Homo sapiens: one gene and its partners. The protein of the gene in region 1 purifies or fractionates together with the protein of each later gene. This does not show direct contact. Each region holds a gene or a part of one and is shown in the gene's direction. Other genes may lie near its edges.

Region 1 (3,844 bases):
GTATAGTAACTTTGAGTGTAAACTTTAATCTATGCCTCAGAGATCCTAGATGGAACAGTTGTTAAGAAGAAAAGATAGATACACTTTGGGAGGCCGAGGCAGGTAGACTGCTTGAGCTCAGGAGTTCAAGATCAGCCTGGGCAACATGATGAAACCCCATCTCTACAAAAAATACAAAAATCATCTGGGTGTGGTGGCATGCACCTGTAGTCCCAGCTGTTTGTGGGCGGGTGGGGGGTGGGAGGATTGCTTGAGCCCAGGAGGCAGAGATTGCAGTGAGCGGTGATCGTGCCACTGCACTCCAGCCTGGGTGACAGAGTGAGGCGCTGTCTCAAAAAAAAAGGAAAGCAAGAAAGAAAAGATGGGAAAGAGTATAGATGTAAATGACTAAACATAAACTTTATAGAGTGGTATGCACCTGAACAGTGCCAAAGATGATTCTTGGATTGTCTATTTTTAGATGATTTCTACATATAGTAATTAAGATTTTAGTAGTTAGAAAAAAATACATTTGAAAGATATCTTCAGTAACCCTTGCCCTCAAGATGGAGTATATTATCCCGTATGTTTTCATACTTTTGCTAAATAGTGGCTATTCATAAACTACATTAGATTATTTCTCTGTTTTTAGATCTACATAAGTGAAGCTGGGTGTGGTGGCTCATGCCTGTAATCCCAGCACTTTGGGAGGTCAAGGCAGGAGGATCACTTGAGGTCAGCAGGTCGGGAGTTGGCCACCCTGGCCAACATGGCAAAACCCCCTCTCTACTAAAAATACAAAAATTAGCCAGGTGTGGTGGCGCACACCTGTAGTTCCAGCACCTCAGGAGGCTGAGACGTGAGAATCACTCTAACCCAGCAGGCGGAGGTTACAGTGAGCAGAGATTGTGCCACTGCACTCCAGCCTGGGCAACACTGCAAGACTCTGTCTTAAAAAAAAAATTATGTAAATGTTATCATACTGTGTGTGTGTATATCCTTTGGTAACTTTTTCTCCACTCAACTATGTGCTTTTGAAATGTATCTTTGTTAATGCATGTAGATCTAGATTTCTTTTAGCTACTACATAATACCAGTTTATCATTCCCCTACTGATTTATCATAGGGGAATGATTAACCAGTTTATCATTCCCCTACTGATGCACAATTAGATATTTCTCCTTTGTTTCTATTACAATGGAGTTTGAGTGAGCTACTTTATACATATGTCATGTTAATAGTTTCTATAGGATGTATACCTATAAGTGAATATAATAGGATATGACATCTTCAACATTACTAGGCATTGCCAAATTTCTATCAAAAGTAGATGTACTAAATTTACACTGTCATCAACAAAGTATAAGAATTCCAAATTCCATGTCTTATCAGACTTTTTGATTTTTGCCAAATCTAATGGGTATATTGATAATATTTATATCTTAAAGAAGGGAATCCGAATTTGCTTTGAAGCAAATATGTGTTAAGTCTGTATGGTAGATACTAGTCTAAGTAAATCCATCGATCTTCCATAATTCTTTAGTAGATAGAAGAGTACAAAGAGAAATACAAATATTTGTTAAACTGTTCTGATTTATTTATTTCTATCTTGCTGGTTTCATTTAATATACTAATAAATTCATTGCAATTCTTCTACAGATCTTTAATGTGCACATCTGTCCCTAACTATGTGAATATATCTGTAAAATGGACTTGTTCATTGCCAATTGTCCTTCTCACTCGTCTTTCAGTGACTTAAAGTTTATTCTACCACATTACTTTATCATTTTCTGATGCCTGCTTTTTATAGATGAAATCAGACATCACTGAAGGAGTTGATATTCCAAAGAAACCTAGATTGGAGAAACCAGAAACACAGTCATCTCCCATTACTGTCCAAAGTAGCAAGGATTTACCTATGGCTGACCTTTCCAGTTTTGAGGAGACCAGTGCTGATGATTTTGCCATGGAGATGGGATTGGCCTGCGTTGTTTGTAGGTAAGTTGTACCTTGCCACAGATTCTTTTGTTACTTTATAAAGAACACATGACCCTTTCCACTCCTCAACCCCCAAAATCAGAAAAATTGTTGTGCATTTTCTATTTTGTTTTTACTATTTGGAACTGGGGTGGAGATAAGTAGGTAACTGCCCATATAACAATTTAGCATATTGAAAATTGTCAACTATTTTGTCTTTCCCAACTATGGCTTTTAAATCTGTTATGTTGTAACATTTTCTGCATTTTTGGGTTCCAGAGGGAAAGTGATTATTATATTATGATATATATGCCTTTGATAATCTAAGGCTATGGTGATTGCTTTTTGTGCTGTTGAAATTTATACTTTTTTATACACACATGGCTTCATTCTATTAATCTGATCAGACATTTATTGAGCACCCTATGTGTGCACAGTAATGTGCTAAGGACTGTGGATAATTAGGTCCAGTACTCACCTTTAGGTGACTCATATTAATGAAGAACAACAACAACATACAGCTAACTAATATAAGGGAATTTAATGGAGATACAAAATGTTATGAGGCTGTTGGAAGACTAATCAGAGTCTACTACCTTCTGAGAGAAAGGCAAAAATTATGACGAGAAATGACGAGAAAATAGCCAAATTTAATTAAGGCATTCTATATATTTATTAATGGTTGACCATAAGCTTTAAAAGCTTATGCTTTTGTGCATGCCAAGTGTTGGGGTTTGTTATTTGCTCTTTGGGTTTCTGGGATTTTTTTTCTTTTTAATATACCAAACTTTACCAGAACAACCTGGAAATAACTTTTTTTTTTTTTTTTTTTTTTTGAGACAGAGTCTTACTCTGTCACCAAGGCTGGAGTGCAGTGGCATGATCTTGGCTCACTGCAGCGTCCATCTCCTGGGTTCAAGCGATTCTCCTGCCTCAGCCTCCTGAGTAGTGGGGATTATAGGTGTGTACCACCATGCCCAGCTGATTTTTGTATTTTTAGTAGAGACAGGGTTTCACCGTGTCAGCCAGGCTGGTCTTGAACTCCTGACTTCAAATGATCCGCCTGCCTTGGCCTCCCAAAGTGCTGGGATTACAGGCATGAGCCAGCACACCTGGCCCCTGAAATAACTTTAAATTATGGCATTTAAAAAAGTAGTGTAATGTTTAATGGTATGTTTTCTTAGGCAAATGATGGTGGCATCTGGCAATCAATTAGTAGAATGTCAGGAGTGCCATAATCTCTACCACCGAGATTGTCATAAACCCCAGGTGACAGACAAGGAAGCGAATGACCCTCGCCTGGTGTGGTATTGTGCCCGATGTACCAGACAAATGAAAAGAATGGTAGGAATCATATTTTTCTTTATTTTAAACAGTCTGTCAATGTTTTTGTTGGTATGTGCTTTCAAAACAAAGATTTGAATATTTAAGATATTGAAAAAATAAATAATATAAGCTGATTATTTATTTATATGTATAGTATGTACATGTGATTAATATTTCTATTGCTAAAGACCAGACCATGTTATGTGCATTTTTCTCTTTTTAGTTTTATCTAATTCTAATATAGATAAAACAAGATTGGTGACACACAAATTATGAATATTCCTTACTAGTCTGTCAATGTATTGACAAACATTTTAAAATACCATGCAGCACTGAGAAGTGGTGAGATACAAAGCCCCACTCTTTGTTGAGATCTGGTAAGGAAATATAGAAAATTTCTGAGTGAGCTTAAACCACCGCATGGATAAGATGTGTACAGAGGCGATATTTATATGTGCATATCTGTCTTTCCAGCTGCATTTCTCTGTTGCTTAGTCTTTCCTTCTCATTGTCCTCAAGTGACCATTACCTCATTCTTCCTATGTACTTTCTCTTTTTACTG
Region 2 (3,844 bases), on another chromosome or scaffold:
ATATATAGATGCATAGATTAAATAGATGATAGATTAGAGAGATACATAGATAGATGAGAGATAGATAGATAGGATAGATAGATACACACATACATATAGATAGATAATGGTGATGATAGAGAGATAGATCAATCAGATAGATAGATACATAGATAGAATAGATACATACATATGTACGTACATAAATTAGATACATATATACATACATACATAGATTAGATAGGTAGATACATACATACATACATGGATAAATAGATTAGATAGATAGATACATAGATACATACATAGGTGCATTAATAGATTAGAGAGATAGATGATAGATTAGAGAGATACCTAGATAGATGAGCAATAGATAAGATAGATAGATATGTACATACATATAGATAGATGACAGATAGATAGATAGATAGATAGATAGATAGATAGATAGATAATGGTGATGATAGGTAATAGAGATAGATAGATACATACATAGATACATGGATACATAGATAGATAGATAGATAGATAGATAGATAGATAGATAGATAGATAGATAGATAGATCATACATACATACATACATACATACATACATAGATGCATAGATACATAGATACATGGATACATAGATGGATGACGGAGAGAGAGAGAGAGAGGAGAGATTCTCTATACTAAAAGCAGGATCTTTCCACGTCAACACTATAGACATTTGGGGCCGGGTGATTCTCTGTGGTGGGGCCATCCTGTGCAGTGTAAGGTATTGAGAAGCATCCCCGGGATCCACCCACCAGATGCCAGGAGCACCCCCACAGTTGCGACAACCAGAACTGTCCTCAGACATTACCCAGTGTGCCGTGATGAGAAAAATCACCCCTAGTTGAAACCACTGTCAAATGGTAGGCAGATAAATGATAGAGATGAGAGATAAATGCTAGAAAGGTATAGATAGATGACAGACAGAGAAGATTAATAAATAAATAGATATAGGTGCCAGAGAGCTAGATATGATATATAGATAAATTGATAAATGATAGATATGATAGATAGATATAGATGGATAGATAGTCACTAACAGAGACTCTCTCATGCTCAGGCAGGGTGTCAGCCTCAGCACTGCTGCCATGTAGGGCTGGAGGATTCTCTGTGTTGAGCCTATCCTGTGCACTGCAGGGCACTGAGCATCTTCCCAGGCTCCACCCACCACGCCCCAGGAGTACACCCTCCAGTTGTGACACCCCAAACTGCCCAAGATATAGACAAGCATCCCCACTGGAACAGAATCTCCCGCAATTCTGAACCACAGGGTGAGAGGCAGGCAAGATAAGACAAGATGATCCTTCCAGAGACCTGGAAGGAGAAGCAAGATCATGTCCCATCCCCCAGGTCTCAGGGAGAGAATGGGCTGGGTCAAGGGACTCTGGATCACTTCCTTCCATTTCTCCATCTCCCAATGTGCTGTATGCATGCTCTTGTTACTATAATAAAGTAAGTAGAATTGAAGAGACTCTGTCGTTACAAGCCACACATGTGTAGATTAAGCAGATATTCCCTGTGCAGGTCAGGTCTCAGGGGAAATGGAGGATTTATTCTCCACCTTTCCAAGACCAAGGGCCCCGCTGTGTGTACGTGTTATTCTCATCAAACATGCTTATCTGCCCGAGGACTAAATGCTGGCTTCCACATGTGACATTTTTACTTGCAAAACTGGATCAATGGGGAGCGTCATTTATACTGTCCCATGCAACAAAGGGAACTGAAAAAGTGCAGGAATGAGGAGACTCAAATCCACGCACATTCAGAGACTCCAATCCACACTCAAAGAGACTCAAATCCAACTCATTCAAAGAGACTCAAGTCCACACTCATTCAAAGAGACTCAAATCCACACTCATTCAAAGAGACTCAAACCCACACGCAATCAAAGAGACTCAAATCCATACTCATTCAAACAGACTCAAGTCCACTCATTCAGAGACTCAAACCTACACGAATTCAAAGAGACTCAAATCCACACTCATTCAAAGAGACTCAAGTCCACAATCATTCAAAGAGGCTCAAACCCACACGCATTCAAAGAGACTCAAATCCACACTCATTCAAAGAAACTCAAATCCACACTCATTCAAAGAGACTCAAATCCACACTCAATCCAAAGACCAGAGCCAGCCTCTTGGAAGCACTTGCTCCTCCGGGCTTCCCTGGGACGTTTAAAGTGGTTTTGAAGATGTCGTATGAGGATGAATGCAAGACTTTGAGTTCACACGGTGCTGACTGGCAGCGCCTGCTGCTCAGAGCTGTGATGGCCTCCTCAAGGGGCAGTTGTGCAGCAGTAGCTCTGATGGAATCTCCAGGAACCCACTCTCCAGCAAGGAGCCCTGTCACATGCATACCTGCATGAGCCTCTCAGCCAGTGGTTGAAATGGGCATGTTGCAGACAGCCTCTCTGTGAGATGCAATAGATGAAACCTGAGGCTCAGTGAAGCTGGAGGCCTCCCAGGCACTAGCTGCTCAGTGAAGGCGCTGTTGTCCATCTACAGTGTCCATATGTCCATCACAAGCTCTTGGCATGAACACAGGAAACTTCTAGGATACTCAGGCTATTACCCTGGGGTTGGAGGCATTCTGTCTCCAGGTATTTATTTATCACTCATCTGTTCTTGGGGTGGAGGAGAATGAGACTACTCCTGCACTCAGGACAGGGACAGACCAGCAGGTGGCCACACGTGGAATAGAAACAGGAGATACCCCTTCAGTCTCAGCCACAGGGAATGAATGAGCAGGGTCCCTGTAGGGGCTGTGACTTTGTAGATGAGAGACCAGAATAGATTAACATGGCCTCAGTACTGTTTGTTGGATGGTTGAATGGATGGCTGCATAAATAGATGGGTGAATGAATAAATGAATGAATGAGTGAATGAGTGGATTAGTACATTAGTGAGTGGATGGATGGATATGTAGACAGGTGAATGAAGAGTGGATGAATGGATGAATGGATGGATGGATGGATGGATGGATAGATGAGTAAATGGATAAGGAATGAATGAGTGGATGAATGAATGAATGAAGGGATGATTGGATGGATGAATGAATGAGTAGATGAATGAATAAATGGATGGATGGATGAACAGATGGATAGATAGGTGGATGAATAAGGAATAAATGATTGAATGAATAGATACATGAATGGGTGAATGATAGTGGGTGTATTGATAAATGGGTGGATGACTGAATGGATGGATTGAAGGATGAACGGATGGATGGATGAGTGGATGGATAAGGAATAAATGAATGAATGAATAGATAAATGAATGAGTGAATGAATGGATCATGAATAAATGAATGGGCAAATGAATAGTGGATGTATGGATAAGTGGATGGATAAACGGATGGATGGATGGATGGATAGATGAGTGGATGGATAAGGAATGAATAAGTGGATGAATGAATGAATGAGTAGATGAATGAATAAATAGATGGACGGATGAACAGATGGATAGGTAGGTGGATGGATAAGAAATGAATGAATAGGCTGGGCGCGGTGGCTCACGCCTGTAATCCCAGCACTTTGGGAGTCTGAGGTAGGCGGATCACCTGAGGTCAGGAATTTAAGACCAGCCTGGCCAGCGTGGTGAAACCCCGTCTCTACTAAAAAATACAAAAATTAGCCAGGCGTGGTAGTGGGCGCCTGTAATCCCAGCTACTTGGGAGGCTGAGGCAGGAGAATCCCTTGAACCCGGGAGGCAGATGTTGCAATGAGCCAAGATCGAGCTGTTGCACATCAGCCTGGGCAACAGGAGTGAAACTCGGTCTCAAAAAGAAAAGAAAAGAAAAGAAATGAATGAATAGATGAATAAATGATTTAG
Region 3 (3,844 bases), on another chromosome or scaffold:
CCCAGAAGGCTTCCTGGAGGGGGAGAGGTCTAGGCTGAGCTCTGTTTGCTGAGTGCGCATCACTGGGGAAGTGGTACTCCAAGCAGAGGCTGCAGAAAAAGCAGCTGTGGGACGTTCAGGACACAAGGAACTGTACTGGGTTCAGCCCTCTGATGGGGCAGGGCAATCTGAGTTCTGGAGAGCAGGCCCAGAGGGGAGAAGGGCCACCGCTGCTCGGGGTCTGGGGCAGAACCCGTATCTGCACCTCCTGACCCTAGCCAGGGCTCTGACCACCTCCATATCCCACATCTGTGGCCCCAGAGATGTAGGGGGGCCCGAGTAGCAGTGACACCTGGCTGTGCAGGACAAGGGCGTGATCAGGGAGCACGGAGGTTGCCCTCAACAGACGTCCTCTAGAAATTCCCCACCAGTCGCCGGTGAACATGATCAGGGCCATTGGGTCTGCTCGGTCCAGTGTCTAGAAGTGAGCAGACCGCTTGGGAGGACTCACTGGTGGCAAGGTCACAGCCGATGGCTTCTGCTGACCAGAGAGCTCAGGGGTCTGCAAAACGAGATGCAACTCCTGGGGAACCTTTTGGATTTAGTCCAGTCTGGGATTCTCACAGACGCATCGCCTGGGGGAAATTCATGAACAGTGGCCAGACCTGCGTGGCCCCTGACTACATCCTCTGTGACCCCTCGATCCAGAACCAAATTGTGGAGAAGCTCAAGAAGTCACTGAAAGTGAGTGTTGACCCCTTGGCAGGGTGGGATGAGAGGCTGTAAGGCACAAGGGGGGCCTGGCCCCTTAACCAACTTCTACAGATTTGGAAACACTGGATTTATTTTCTTCTAATATAAACATAATGCAAGCTAGGCATGGTGGCTCACACCGGTAATCCCAGCACTTTGGGAGGTAGAGAGTGGAGGATCACTTGAGGCCAGAAGTTTGAGACCAGCCTGGGTAACATAGCAAGATCCCATCTTTACAAAATATGTTTTTAAATTAGCCAAGCATGGTGGCATGGTGGTGCATGCCTGTTGTCTCAGCTACTTAGAAGGCTACGGCGAGGCTGGAGCATTGCTTGGGCCCAGGAGTTTGAGGCTGCAGTGAGCTATGATTGCACCACTGCACTCCAGCCTGGGCAACAGAACAAGACCCTGTCTCTAAGAGAAAAAAAAAAGATAATGCACACTCACTATAGATTATTTAGAAAAGATTAAAAAGCATAAAGAAGAAAAAAGCTCCACCCAGAATCCCACCACCCAAAGACAGACACTGCTGGCCTGTGTCTGTGCAGCCTTTGGGCAGGACGAGGCTCTGCGTCCTTACCCGAAGCCCCCACCTCTTCTCCACAGGAGTTCTACGGGGAAGATGCTAAGAAATCCCGGGACTATGGAAGAATCATTAGTGCCCGGCACTTCCAGAGGGTGATGGGCCTGATTGAGGGCCAGAAGGTGGCTTATGGGGGCACCGGGGATGCCGCCACTCGCTACATAGGTGCGTGACCCCTGAAGAGCACAGCCCACCTGCCCAGGCTGCAGGGGTCCCCAGCAAGTTCACAGCAAGTGGGCACAGATGCTTGATAAGCGGACACGACCTCGGGATGGGTATAAATTGCTTTCACCAGGGAGCCTGCGGTAGACTCCAGCAGGCAGGGGCTGAGGACAGCCCCTGCTTCAACCTCAGAATCCCCTCTCCCAGCAAAGGCCCAGAAAGAGGGGCCTCATCTCCCTGCCCCTCTGAAGCAGCAGGAGCAGGGACAGCAGAAGCCACAGGAGCCCCAGGTGTGCCCAGCCGTGAGGGGCCCCCAGTGCCCAGGCTGTGGGTCACCAGATGGGACCCTCTTGGCCCCGAGTTTGTCAAGGAGACAAGAGAATTCTGGCAGGGCATCAGGTGGCCGGCAGGTGCAGTGCCTGCTCCTGGAGACAGATCTCGGGTCCTTCCGTACAGGTTAACCTATAGTTGTCCCCAGTGGTCTGCTCAGATGGCATCCAGGACGCAGGTGCCTAGGGTACCTCTCTGAGGCCTCGTCCCTGCCCTTTTCCAAGCCTGGGCAGGTTTGCCTGGAAAAGGGTTGGAGCAGGGGTCTAGGTGCTTGCACTTTCCATCCGCGTGGGGGTCTCTGCGCCGTCCAACTCTGGCTTGTTTCCTGCCTCAGCCCCCACCATCCTCACGGACGTGGACCCCCAGTCCCCGGTGATGCAAGAGGAGATCTTCGGGCCTGTGCTGCCCATCGTGTGCGTGCGCAGCCTGGAGGAGGCCATCCAGTTCATCAACCAGCGTGAGAAGCCCCTGGCCCTCTACATGTTCTCCAGCAACGACAAGGTGGGTGGTGGGCCTGGGGTGCCCTCTGCCAGGGTCCTGGGGCCCACAGACCTGGGTTCAAACTGCAGCTTCACTGTTCTCTGGCTGTGTGACCTTGGGCAAGTCACTGGATCTTTCTGAGCTCCTTTCACCTCGTCTGTAAGATCAGGACAGCAGCATCACCTGAGGGCACTGAATGAGCGATCCTTGCCCAGGGCCCTGCACACAGGCATGGGGGCGGCTGCTGTCACTCTTTGCTCATGTGGTGCTGACAGCCACGCGGTCTGCAGGAAGAGCAGGAGATGGAGGCTAAGGCTCTGCCTCCACCTGCTCCTGTCCTTGTGGCTCCAGGCTATACCCAGGCAGGGTCGGGTTGGGGGCTGGGGCATCCTGTGGGCAGGAGACTGAGGCCAGTGGCTGGGTCCTGGTGCAGGTGATTAAGAAGATGATTGCAGAGACATCCAGTGGTGGGGTGGCGGCCAACGATGTCATCGTCCACATCACCTTGCACTCTCTGCCCTTCGGGGGCGTGGGTGAGTCTGGGGCTGAGCTTGCTGCCTCCCTCTGGGCCCCAGGGCTGGGCACACTCACCCAGCAAATTCAGGAGGGACCACCTCCTGCAGCCCGGGCGGCAGCCTCCCATTAGCCTCTTCCATTTGGACCTTGGCCTCTGCGTGCCATCCATCAGACACACTTAACCTGGGAGCCTAGAGGTTCCTAGAGGTCACCTGGTGCACCGGCCTATTTCATGGAGGCCTGAGAAAGGTGACCCAGGCCAGAGGTCACACAGCCATTTAGTGGCAGAGCTGGGATTAGACCCTTGCTGGGCACTCCCACAGTGTGGATGCCCTGGGGACACCCTAGACATTGGCCACCCTCAGGAGGCCCAGAAAAGGGCCACAACCTGGGGCTGGGTGCTGAGGGCCATAGGATTTGAGGGAAGGATGGGTGATGGTGGCTGGGGCTCTGCCTCCCTGTCCCTGTGGTTCTGGGATACACCCAACAAGGTGGAGAGGGAAACCTGGGGCGTCCTGGGGGCAGGATGCTGAGCCCTGTGCTTACTTCTCCTCCGCAGGGAACAGCGGCATGGGATCCTACCATGGCAAGAAGAGCTTCGAGACTTTCTCTCACCGCCGCTCTTGCCTGGTGAGGCCTCTGATGAATGATGAAGGCCTGAAGGTCAGATACCCCCCGAGCCCGGCCAAGGTGAGAGGGGGAAGGCGCTGTGGGGGAGACCGGGCTGTGCGGGACCAGGGCCTGGGGATCACTGCCCACTCCGTGTCCCTTTCACAGATGACCCAGCACTGAGGAGGGGTTGCTCCGCCTGGCCTGGCCATACTGTGTCCCATCGGAGTGCGGACCACCCTCACTGGCTCTCCTGGCCCTGGGAGAATCGCTCCTGCAGCCCCAGCCCAGCCCCACTCCTCTGCTGACCTGCTGACCTGTGCACACCCCACTCCCACATGGGCCCAGGCCTCACCATTCCAAGTCTCCACCCCTTTCTAGACCAATAAAGAGACGAATACAATTTTCTAACTCAGCAAATGCAGGCATATG
Region 4 (4,304 bases), on another chromosome or scaffold:
TTTGTTTTTAACTGGGAATTGTGTTTTTAATGTACAGGGTTGTCTTTCTGTGTTTCTATTTCCTTCCTTGGTAACTTTGACTTTTCTTTCTTTCTTTTTTTTTTTTTTGAGATGGAGTCTCCCTCTGTTGCCCAGGCTGGAATGCAGTGGTGCAATCTTGGCTCACTGCAGCCTCGACCTCCCAGGTTCAAACGATTCTCATGCCTCAGCCTCCCGAGTAGCTGGGATTAGAGGCATGTGCCACCATGCCCTGCTAATCTTTGTATTTTTAGTAGAGACAGGGTTTCGCCGTGTTGCCCAGGCTGGTCTGGAACTCCTGACCTCAGGTGATAGGCACGCCTCGGCTTCCCACAGTGCTGGGATTACAGGCGTGAGCCCCCGCGCCCGGCCAAAGAACCATGGTCCTGTTTCATAACTGTGAGTCTCTCGGGTCTCCCAGAGACATTCTTGTGTGACTCAAGCCCCAGGGTCCTGTGGCCCCGCATCCGCCTGGTGTCACATTTAGAGGACCAGGGAGGAGCCACCAAAGGCAGCGCAGAGCCACTGTATCATGGACGTTCACGACTGCAAGAACGAAGAATTGTTAACTATTTCTCAATGTCTCTCTTCTCAAAGAAATACATTTAATATCAACTTCATTTTCTGAAGGTTTTTTCCCAAAGAGACAACAAGGACTTTGAGCGAGGCATAACGTGGCGAAGCTTCCTAACCCTCCTCTGTAGAGACCGCCCAGCCCCTCAAGATCAACCCCCCACCCCGTAGCGGCCGTTGAGTGTCTTTCACTGCCGCTCTGTGACACCACGTCCCTCCCACCCCTGCCGCCCTCCCCACCTGACTGGCCAGGAGCAGCCGCAGCGTGTTCAGAACCTCCCAGCCACTGTCCACCCGGGCGGAGACCCCAGCCCCGCGTGGCTGGACGGGCTTCCCTGTCCTGTGGAAGGGGAGACACACAGGACCCTGTGAAGTGAGCTCTCGGGTCCTGCTCCTCTGGGAAGCTCAGAGAAGCCTCTCAGGGAGGATCTGGCAGGTTTCAGTGTTGCACCAGTGAGTAACGGCTCACGAGCTCTTCAGGCATTGCCTCAGTTTCTCACAGGCGCAGCCCTCTGCTCAGTGTGGCCTCTTTCTGACGTGGGTTTTCTTCTTGCACCTGGGGAGTCCTGGGTGGGCCTGTGTATTCGTGAACGGGTTGTGGGACCTGTCGCTGTGTGGGGGCTGTCGAGCACTCCCCAGAACGTAACAAATCCTCAGGGGAACTGATGGGCGGTCGCGCGGGCACTGGGTCCTCCACACCCTGGAGAGCCGTTTTCCGTTGCCACTCGGCTCTGGCCGGGGTCACATTCTGCAGCATGTCTGTTCATTCCCCTGGGCGGGGCCCTGCACCGACTCCAGCCCAGCCCCTGCTCCCTCTGCGGGGAACGTGGCCCCAGGCAGTGCTGGGCCATTGGCTGTCAGTGCTGGTCCTGGCGGCTGCATTCCCAGTCCCCTTGGTCTCTGTGACAGTGGGCGGGGCCGGCCCTCCCAGGATCTGACGGCGCAGGTCCTCCCCTTCTGTGTCCTGCAGATGGACACCCGCTCCGGGAGCCAGTGTTCCGTCACCCCAGAAGCCATACTCAATAATGAAAAGCTGGTCTTGCCGCCCCGCATCTCCAGAGTGAACGGCTGGTCGTTACCCCTGCACTACTTCCAGGTGGTGACCTGGGCTGTCTTCGTGGGCCTTTCCTCGGCCACCTTCGGGATCTTCATTCCCTTCCTGCCTCACGCGTGGAAATACATTGCCTACGTGGTATCCTTTTCATCGTGGCATGGTCTAAGCGGGAGGGGTTCCTGGAGGAACTTGCGATGGACCTGGCTGTGGGGTCTGGGCCATGGCTGCCCGGTGGCACCAGTCACCTGCCCTGGGCCAGACTATGTCCCCTGAGCCTGCAGGTGGGCCCAGTGGCCACTCATGCTCTGTGCAGCCCCTGCTTAGGGTCAGGACAGGACAGCGTTGGCTGAGGGGGCTCCGGAGAGGGAATCTGTCAGGAGGGACAGCAGCCCCCTGGCGTGGCGCAGGACCCGCCCTGCTGGCAGCCTTCCGCTAAAATCCCTGCGCAGCATTTTGCACATGGCCAGCACCTTTCTCCTTGCCCCTGGTGCCAAGGAGGAACAGCGCCATGCCCCGCAGGTCGGCAGCCTGCGTTTCCATGCCAAGCTTAGGCCACACTGCGAGGGCCTCTGGGCTGCCCTGCGGAGATGGCTGTCAACCCTGAACTCCTGGCTAGAAGGCGGTCCAGGGGCCAGGCAGGGTGACTGGAGGGCCCCGCACTCCACCCCTTCTATTTGGTTGCCATGGAGAGTCTGTGTTTGTCCCAGGGTGAGAGGAGGAGGGAGCCAGGATCTGAGGGCGGGAGCTGACGTCCCAGGCACGGGGAGCCCAGCTTCTCCTGGCTCCAGGGGACAAGGATCCTCTCCCCAGTGCCCCCGCAGCCAGGCTCTGAGCCCAGAGGGCCCAAGAAAGAGGCCCAGGGTCCCTGAGTGAGTCTGGGGTCCTCGAGAGAGTCTGGAGTCCCCGAGAGAGTCCGGAGGGGCCCTGAGGGAGTCTGAGGGGGGTTTCCCTGAGCTATTCTCGGGGAGAGGGTCCCTGAGTGAGCTGTCTGGGGTCTACAGGGAGCGGGTAGGTTGTGCAGCTCCCTCGCTCCTCCCCCTGCTCCTCCTGTCTGAGGCTGTCTTCTCTCCCAGTGCTCAGGGGTCTCTGGTATGAAAGAACCCAGGCTCCTCCAGGGCCTTTGGGGCTGCATCCGGCTGTGTTTATACCTGGGATGTCCCTCCTGTGGCCCTGCTCTGTCCCTCAAGCTGTAAAGGGTTTTGGGGTCACTGTGCTTGGCTGGGCTGACTGAGCCTCTGGGGGTGCGGTACATTCTGTGGGGGATTTGCCCTGTGTCCAACAGGGATGAACCAAAAGGGGCACGGGGGCAGCCTTCCCGGTCCCCGACTGGCACAGGGCTGTGTATGCAGGGCCAATGGGTAGCCTCATCTTCTCTAGGCCTGGGTAAGCAGGGCTGTGTGTGCAGGGCCGACGGGTGGACTCATCTCCTCTAGATCTGGGTGAGCAGGGCTGTGTGTGCAGGGCCATGTGTGAAGGGCCGGGTGTATAGGGCCGTGTGTGCAAGACTGGATGAGCAGGGCCATGTGAGCAGGGCCGGGCATGGGTGAGCTGGGCTCGGGTGAGCAGGGCTGGGTGTGCAGGGCTGGCTGTGCAGGGCTGGCTGTGCAGGGCTGGGTGTGCAGGCCCAGGTGAGCACGCCCAGGTGAGCAGGGCCAGGCGAACAGGGCTCAGTTGTGCAGGGCTGGGTGTGCAGGGCTGTGTGAGCAGGGCCAGGCCTGGGTGAGCTGGGCTCACGTGTGCAGGGCTGGGTGAGCAGGGCTGACCAGCGGCCACGCCTCTTCTGGGCCCTTGGGCCTCACGGGGACGCCTCGTGCCAGGCTGACCAGGCCCTGGGCCAGGTTCTTCCTTGACATGCCAGGTGACCGGGGGGATCTTCTCGTTCCACCTCGTCGTCCACCTGATCGCGTCCTGCATCGACCCGGCCGACTCCAATGTCAGACTCATGAAGAACTATTCTCAGCCCATGCCCCTCTTCGACAGATCAAAACATGCACACGTGATCCAGAATCAGTTCTGCCACCTGTGCAAGGTCACCGTGTGAGTGCCCGCCCTCGCCGAGGCCCCAAGGTGTCAGGGTCACCTCCAGGGTCCTGGTGCTCAGGTCACTGCTGGCCCCTCAGGGCCCGTGCCATGGCCGCAGCTGATGCTAGTGGAGCTTCCAGGGCCCGGCCCTGTGGCTGCGGGTGGATCGCCCCTCATCTCGCTGTGAACCGGGCGCGGTGCCGGGCCGCCCCAACTCCTCCGCAGGCAGGGCTGAGACTGGAGGGCTGGGTCTGTCACCTGCAGGTGACCCGCTGCTCCCCTGGAATGAAACACAGCAGCACTCAGGCATGTTTGGTCCTCAGTGGATTTTGTGCACGAGGTCCCTCCCCTGAGGGCCCAGGGCAAGAGAGCACTGTCTTTCTTGGGGAGTTTCAAGACAAGCCCCTAGGAAAGTGGGAGGTAAGGGTTCCAGTGTCTCCAGGGGCCCTGGAGGCCTCTGTGATGGCCTAGGGGTTGGCTACAGGGCTGTTGTCAGCTGCAAGGGAGGCCCTGTAGGCACAGGTGGGATCCAAGCCCCCGGCCTCAACTCCTGGAACCATGGGGCAGGCGCGGCCTCCTCCAGGGCCATGGCCCAGAGTGAGGCTGGTGTAGGACGGCTGGCGGGGGGTCTATGCTC

What was found. The genes of interacting proteins can lie anywhere in the genome.
Region 2: the proteins of INTS12 (region 1) and P2RY8 purify together in Homo sapiens (co-immunoprecipitation; one large-scale study listed by IntAct). This does not show direct contact.
Region 3: the proteins of INTS12 (region 1) and ALDH3A1 purify together in Homo sapiens (co-immunoprecipitation; one large-scale study listed by IntAct). This does not show direct contact.
Region 4: the proteins of INTS12 (region 1) and ZDHHC11 purify together in Homo sapiens (co-immunoprecipitation; one large-scale study listed by IntAct). This does not show direct contact.

Annotation. Positions count from the first base shown.
Region 1 is NC_000004.12:105,691,432-105,695,275, reverse strand, and holds part of INTS12 (integrator complex subunit 12), read left to right. Parts: intron 1-1,789; coding exon 1,790-1,977; intron 1,978-3,140; coding exon 3,141-3,300; intron 3,301-3,844. UniProt on the Homo sapiens protein: Component of the integrator complex, a multiprotein complex that terminates RNA polymerase II (Pol II) transcription in the promoter-proximal region of genes.
Region 2 is NC_000023.11:1,526,859-1,530,702, reverse strand, and holds part of P2RY8 (S-geranylgeranyl-glutathione receptor P2RY8), read left to right. Parts: intron 1-3,844. UniProt on the Homo sapiens protein: G protein-coupled receptor for S-geranylgeranyl-glutathione (GGG), an endogenous metabolite present in lymphoid tissues.
Region 3 is NC_000017.11:19,737,972-19,741,815, reverse strand, and holds the end of ALDH3A1 (aldehyde dehydrogenase, dimeric NADP-preferring), read left to right. Parts: intron 1-605; coding exon 606-723; intron 724-1,338; coding exon 1,339-1,480; intron 1,481-2,141; coding exon 2,142-2,308; intron 2,309-2,720; coding exon 2,721-2,820; intron 2,821-3,362; coding exon 3,363-3,493; intron 3,494-3,580; coding exon 3,581-3,595; 3' UTR 3,596-3,827; downstream 3,828-3,844. UniProt on the Homo sapiens protein: ALDHs play a major role in the detoxification of alcohol-derived acetaldehyde. They are involved in the metabolism of corticosteroids, biogenic amines, neurotransmitters, and lipid peroxidation.
Region 4 is NC_000005.10:847,860-852,163, reverse strand, and holds the start of ZDHHC11 (palmitoyltransferase ZDHHC11), read left to right. Parts: upstream 1-1,177; 5' UTR 1,178-1,561; coding exon 1,562-1,783; intron 1,784-3,503; coding exon 3,504-3,682; intron 3,683-4,304. UniProt on the Homo sapiens protein: Endoplasmic reticulum-localized palmitoyltransferase that could catalyze the addition of palmitate onto various protein substrates and be involved in a variety of cellular processes.